2 linked regions of the Homo sapiens genome follow. The protein of the gene in region 1 interacts with the protein of each later gene in a pairwise test. Each region holds a gene or a part of one and is shown on either strand. Other genes may lie near its edges. The genes, in order: LIMS2 and HIPK3.

Region 1 (3,621 bases):
CAGATCCCTGGGGGAATGCAAGGTGCTGCTCAGTGATCCCAGGCTTGCAGGGGGTGCCTGCAGGAGGCCCCACGTGGACAGGCAGGGCCGCCTCTGCCTATGAGGGCCCACCATGCCGCAGCACCAGGCTGGCACCTGACTCCTGGGGCTGAGGCTGCCGAGGGGGAGGCCAGACTGGGAGGGGATGGTGACTCACAAGGTTACCATCAGTGCCTTAGAGGAGGGGTAGGGTCTGCTGACCCCAGGGCATTCACAGAGGTGTCAGTCCCCTCTGCCCAGTGTGAATCCTGAAAGGCCTGCACCTGCCCAGACTCTGCTTTCTGTCCCCTTCTGTCACTGCTGCCTCCTGGGGCCACTGTGGTCCCCTGGAGTCACTGGCTCCTGGGGTCACTGTTGTCCCCGGGTCACCACTGTCCCTCGGGGTCACCGCTCTAGCCCTGATGCCACCCGGCCCGCCCTTTGTCCTTGCAGCACTTTGTCTGTGCCAAGTGTGAGAAGCCATTCCTGGGGCACCGGCACTATGAGAAGAAGGGCCTGGCCTACTGCGAGACTCACTACAACCAGGTGAGCCCGGTGCAGAACCTTCAGGGATGCGGGTCTGGAGGGGTGGCCAGGAGAGCTGCCGTGAGCAAGGGAGGCTGTGGGCACCCCCTCAGGAGCTCTGCCAGGTGCTGAGCCCAGGCCTGCACCCTCAGCCCTGGCTCCTGGCCTGGGGTCTCGAGACCTGGGCAGCTCTCTTCAGTCTCAGTGTCTTCCTTTGAAGAATGTTCTGGGGCTGGTGTGAGGTCCCGGGCACATGGGGCTGACAGTGCCAGCAACCCCCTCCCTCCCTTGCTCTGGTACAGAAGGCAGGGGGCGCTGGTGGGATGCAGTCACCACCTGGGCCCACCTCCTTGCAGGACAGCAGTGGCCAGAGCAGAGGGGCCTTCTGGGGAGCAACGCCCCAGCCTGTTGTCCTTCCCGGAAGGGTGGTTCTCATGGGTTGCCGTGCCCTCAACCCAGCCTTGCAGCTGGGCCCTGGGAGGCAGGGCCTGGGAGATGCCTGAGAGGGGCCGTGTTGGAGGGCCAGGCTGGCTGCATGATGGCCCTGGGCTGGGGTGTGACTGCCTGCAGCTACTCTGACAGCCTGCTCGGCCCACAGCTCTTCGGGGACGTCTGCTACAACTGCAGCCATGTGATTGAAGGCGATGGTGAGGCCCTGTGTTCCCTCCCCCACCCCACCTGCTCTCCTGGGGCCTGGGTGCTGCAGCTGTGAGCCCAGCCGGGCCTGCGGCAGCCTAGCCAGGCCTGCTGAGTCCCACGCTTCCCTCACAGTGGTGTCGGCCCTCAACAAGGCCTGGTGTGTGAGCTGCTTCTCCTGCTCCACCTGCAACAGCAAGCTCACCCTGAAGTGAGTCCCTGTGATCGTGGGATGGGGCTCAGGGTGGAGGGGGCTCCTGCAGGTCCTTCCTCTCAGCAGCCCTCCTGCACACCAGCTGAGTCTGGCCTGGGGATATGGTGGGGACAAGGGGCAGCCCGGCCTTATACCACCCAGGGAGATGGGGGCAGGTTCAGGGGGTCTAGGGGATCCAGGGACCCCAGGGACCCCAGGCACAGTGAGAGGAGGAGGAACACTCATGCCTCCAACACACCTGCCAGAACCCTGGGCTCTGGGGAGGGAAGGGCATTCCAGCTCAGGGAACAGCATATGCAAAAGCAGCAGTGTCAGCTGCTCATCCAGGAAGCCTCGAGGGGTGTGGGATGGCTGGAGCTGGGAGAGGAGAGATGGCGTCCAGGTTTCCAAGGGCTGTGGGGAGGCATAGAGGGTTCTGGGGTTTCAGAACCTGAGAGAAGCCTCTGGGAGGCAAGGGAAGCCTCAAGGCCCTTCTCATCCCTATGCTCTCTGGCCATCTCACCCTAGGGCCTGGCCTGCTGGCTAGGAGAGGCTGGTGTGGGGAGGCTGGGGGCTGAGGGAAGCCCACTCCACAGTCACCTGTCTGGGGTTAAAGGGGTGGGCGTGGGGCTCTGCTGACAGCTCAGCTTCCTCCTCAGGAACAAGTTTGTGGAGTTCGACATGAAGCCCGTGTGTAAGAGGTGCTACGAGAAGTTCCCGCTGGAGCTGAAGAAGCGGCTGAAGAAGCTGTCGGAGCTGACCTCCCGCAAGGCCCAGCCCAAGGCCACAGACCTCAACTCTGCCTGAAGGCCCTCTTGCGCAGCTGCCTCTCGGCCCCTCCGCCTTCTCCCCTCCTGCTGTCCATGCTTGGCCCCCTCGTCCCCATCCACCTGTGCCCTCCGCATCTTACCCTCCCTTTCTCTTTCCTCATTGCCTTCTCCCTTCCTGTTCCCTCATCTCTGCCTTCCCCATGTCTCTCCTCTCCTTGGCCGTGGCTTCTGTCTGTGAGGAGGCAGGAGCTGGGGAGTGGGAGCCTATGACCCCACGTCTGACAGCCATGTCCACCTGTGCCCACAGCTTCCGCCCACAGACCTCCAGGGACAGGAGCAAATTGCACCACAGCTCCCCGCCTGGCCTGGCCCTCCCCAGGCGGCTCAGTGGCTCATGCTGTCCTGTGAGAGCCCCTGCCCCAGAGCGGCCCCACTAAGCGCATGTGGCTCCTGGGCTACCCACAGCCAGGGCAGCCTGCTGGAGCCACAGGGCCAGGGCCATGCAGATGGAGGCCTCTGGGAGCCACCTCCAATCCCTCACCACTCACTCAACCAGTGGCACAGTGTCCTTGTGCCCACACTGAGCCAGCAAGTCCTGCTGTCCACACCCACAAGCTACCTGGAGGGACAGGACCCACCTCCATCCTTCGGAAGGCCTTCCTGGAATCCCACCTTGGCCTCCGCCCTCGGTTCCGCCCCGCCCCTCTCCCCCCGACCTTGGGGCTTGTGTCGAGCCCTTGGGTGGGGCCAGGAGGAGGTGATGGCGTCAGAGGAGGTGTGGTCAGAGGTGACTTGTTCCCACCTCCAGGGAGGACGCTTCGTCTTCGGCCAGCGCAGACCTGGTGTTTGTTTGTTGGGCTCACGCTTGCACAATGAAGGCTTGTTCACACAACCACAGCAGCCTGCGTGGTTTGTGGCGGGGGTCGGGGGTGGAGGGGATGGCAGCAGCTCTGGACACGCTGCTGCTGGGGCAGTTGAACAGAGGGACAGACATAGACAGGCACGAGTTCAGGGGGCCCTAGCCTCTATCCCAGGCCAGGCTGCCATAAGCAGTTGAAGACTAGCCCTGCCAGGTCCTCACAAGCCTGGGTGGCCAGGTCCACATAAGCTGGCCCAGTGGGCAGAGGAGGAGGTGGGCAGGGACAGGGCATGCCAGCGAGGTGGGGGAATCCAGGCCTCCAAGGTGCTATGTCCAGCTCTGCCCACTGTCTGTCTGGGCATAAGCTGGCCATAGCATGAAGCCAGCAGCCAGAGAGCCGCACCTCCACCCTGGCCTCCTGGGGGTAGCGCAGGCGTATCAATGCCCCGGGTGGGGAGAAGGACAGAAGGTGTGAGGAGGGGCCTGGGAGGAGAACTCTCCCATGAGTGCCCCTCCCCAGTCTGAGAAACAGGAAGGAAGGAAGGGAGGGGGAGGAAGGAAGCAGAAAGGGAGGGATGAAGTCATTTCTGGAGAATGCAGCTGCCCTCCGGGTTCCCTGG
Region 2 (3,390 bases), on another chromosome or scaffold:
CCTAGAAACTTTCCAACTGAGGTTCCTTGAAAGTTAGATCCTTGAATTATGAGGTGTTGGTATTTTAGGATGTAAGCTGGCCTACTACAATCACATTCTTTCGAAGTCATATGTTTTAAGTATTAAAGATACATGTGAATTCCCTATTCATCCACACATATTGAACAGAAATTATTTCTCTCAAAAAATATTTGCGGAAACTTAATATTGAAGGAAAATGGGACAGGGTCATCTTATGGTTGCAGGTAGTCCGGGTACACTGCCTCAGACTTCGGTTTTAAAAGAACTGATAGAAAGTAGATTAGTTATGGTTTGATATCCTGGTGTGTATCTCAGATTCCAACTCATTGACAATGTGACTTTGTGCAAGTTCCCTAAACATTCTGCAGCTATGCCCTCATTTGTGTAACAAAGATAATAATACCTATCTCACAAGGTGGCTTTGAGAGTTAAATAAGATGATGTAAGTTATTAATAGATACTCAATATTGTTAACCTCTCCCTTCCCTACCCTGTAAGGAGTATTGGGGTGGAAAAAAAGTCAACAAGCTGTTTGCTGCAATATATATATTTTAATTCAAAGTGAATCGACAGTAATACACCATAAATTCTTATTTTGACACTCACCAAAATAGTCACCTGGAAAACCCGCTTTTTGTGACAAAGTACAGAAGGCTTGGTCACATTTAAATCACTGAGAACTAGAGAGAAATACTATCGCAAACCGTAATAGACATTACATCCATAAAATTTTCCCAGTCCTTATTGTAATATTGCACAGTGCAATTGCTACATGGCAAACTAGTGTAGCATAGGAGTAAAAGCAAAAACAAATAAACCAAAGAAAGAAAGCCACAAGTCTAAAATTGTTAAACAATTAACAGTTCAAACTTAGTAATCAAATCTGTATCATTGGATTCATTAAAACAAATCTTCCTACACCTTGCAGTGTATGATTTAACTTTTACTTAACACAGTCCAAGTTTAAAATTAGCAGATTTTAAAAATGAAAATGTTTTGCTAATACAGTAACATATTTAATTAAACACGCTGGAGGAAAAAAAAAACAACTAAATATCAGGATATTTGATTTAAAAAACATTTTGCAAATTAAAATAGTATGCAAATATGCAACTTGGAAATCATGCAGTGTTTTATTTAAGAAAGCATTAAAACCGAAGAAAACTGGTCAAAATGGTTTTTAAAAGGTATAAATCCAGATTACTTTGTCAATATGCTAAATTAAGAATTTAGCAGAATTTTGAAATTTATTTTAAAATACATTAAAATGCCCATGATTGCAATTAAAGAGCAGTGTAGTTAACTGGGATATACCTTTATCAAACATTAATACTGTATTATGAAAATGTTGAAGTTTACCATTTATGTCAATTTAACAAGACTGCTTTAAGTCTTGGAAATTAAAGACAAAAAATACAACATTTCAGGGTAGTAAACATGGCCCTAAACAAAAAGAAAACTCTGTCAGTTTTGTACCTGTTGTGATACAATCAATCCTTTGCACTTGGTGTTTCTGAAACAATGTGTTGCCAGCATTGATTCTTTCCTAAGAAGTAAGCAGATCCTAATAATCTGCTGGAACATATAAATAAAATTAGAAGGCTGTGGAGGGCAGCAAATTTACTTAAATAGTGACCCCATAAATGTGTCATCTGTAAATAATCTTTTAAATTAATCTTAGGCTACTCCTTTTTAAACATTTAATTTTTTATATATATATATTTCTATTTGTATAAAATGCATAGAATTAATTACTAAAAACACTGAAACTTGTGGGGAAAATTAAGTCCTTCATTTTCAGTGTGACTAAAAATGTACTGCTGGTTTTTACTTTATGATCTAATACTGTAATTTTTAAAATCAATTTCAGGCACATTTATTTCATTGATGATTATTAAATAAAACACTGCTTGTGTTAATGGAGTGAAGAAAACTTATCCATTATTAGCTTATTGTGAACGCTGTACTAGAGCTGTACTAGTGGTATACAATTCATTTATCAAAGAAACGCTGTAAATCCAAAACATCTAGAGTTTTACACTCCAATGCTTTGTACTGTTTATTCCAGTAAATGCTGTAAGATTATATTCCAGATTTTTAAGGAAAAAAGTTAAGTCAAGCCTGCAAGATACAGCTTTCTCAAGTGTCTACAATGCCAGTATGAAAATAAAAAATTAAGTTACACTGATACATCCAAGTTTTTTTAATATGCAGTGATGAGCACAAACATTAATAGAGATAAAATACTGATGCAAATAACACACCCCAAAGTAACAAATGCAATTATTTTCCACCATTTACAATACAGTAGTTACAATGACACTCCAAACAGAAAAGCAAAGTAAAAAATCAAAACCCCAATTTCTATTCATGTAATTAGACTTATACAGAAATTAGAAGGCTAAATAACAACTAGTTAATCACCTAATTTCACAGCTATCTGAAGTGGCAATCGTTATATAGCAGCTTATCTATGATACATTCAAGATAAATGATACAATTTATTACTTGCCTGTAAGCTAAAACACAGCCTCAATTTAATACCTTTCCTTAAATTCCACCTTTACACTACAATATACTTGAGGTCTATGCAAAAAGTAGCTACCTTTATATAGGAAATGGATGATTAAGTCTTTGGTGCTGTAAAAGCAACTTCATTTAAACAGACATAACCACTACCATCACCACCACCCAAAAAAGAAAAAAATGTCGGGGAAGGGGGGAACTCAACACACTTCCTAGAAAGAAAAAAAAGCATGTAATTTCTGTCCCTGACGGAATGTATTAAATAAGCAAACATCACCAACAAGCAAAACAAGTACTGCAATGTAAAAATACTTAAAAAAAAAAAAAACCCTCTCACATGCATAAATCAAAAATTGCACACAAAGAACTCACATCTTTTCAAGCTTCAATAGTAAAAGTTCTGCTACTATTTATTAAATACTGCATGGTTTGCCCAAGCTAAGATAAAACCACATCATGAATCAATGAGCATTTTGCATTTTATTATCTACCCAAAGTCATGCCTACTGTACCTCTAAACATTTTATTAAGTCCAATTATACAGCAAACACTCTCAAAATAAACTTAGATTGTATTGCAGTTTCACTTAACAGTATATAAAATGCTGTGCTGTGACAGTTATCAACTATCCATTAGATACTGAATCAATTTTTCTTAAGCACTACTAACTGCTTGCTTTTCTTGAAGCTAGATCATTCTGAAAAATCAGACAGCAGAATTCAGCTATAGCAAACATGCTGCCCTCTTAATAAGGAAAAAAACAGCTACTACCTGAAATCATACCACACAAAAACAAAAATGAACATTACGCTATCAAAAGGAAACTAAATAGTAGGTCTGAAT

What was found.
Region 2: the proteins of LIMS2 (region 1) and HIPK3 interact in a two-hybrid assay, tested with the Homo sapiens proteins (one large-scale study listed by BioGRID and IntAct).

What each region holds. Positions count from the first base shown.
Region 1 is NC_000002.12:127,637,839-127,641,459, reverse strand, and holds the end of LIMS2 (LIM and senescent cell antigen-like-containing domain protein 2), read left to right. Parts: intron 1-471; coding exon 472-564; intron 565-1,113; coding exon of another isoform or gene 1,114-1,141; coding exon 1,142-1,190; intron 1,191-1,314; coding exon 1,315-1,390; intron 1,391-2,031; coding exon 2,032-2,179; 3' UTR 2,180-3,034; downstream 3,035-3,621. UniProt on the Homo sapiens protein: Adapter protein in a cytoplasmic complex linking beta-integrins to the actin cytoskeleton, bridges the complex to cell surface receptor tyrosine kinases and growth factor receptors. Plays a role in modulating cell spreading and migration.
Region 2 is NC_000011.10:33,354,186-33,357,575, reverse strand, and holds the end of HIPK3 (homeodomain-interacting protein kinase 3), read right to left. Parts: 3' UTR 553-3,390; downstream 1-552. UniProt on the Homo sapiens protein: Serine/threonine-protein kinase involved in transcription regulation, apoptosis and steroidogenic gene expression. Phosphorylates JUN and RUNX2. Seems to negatively regulate apoptosis by promoting FADD phosphorylation.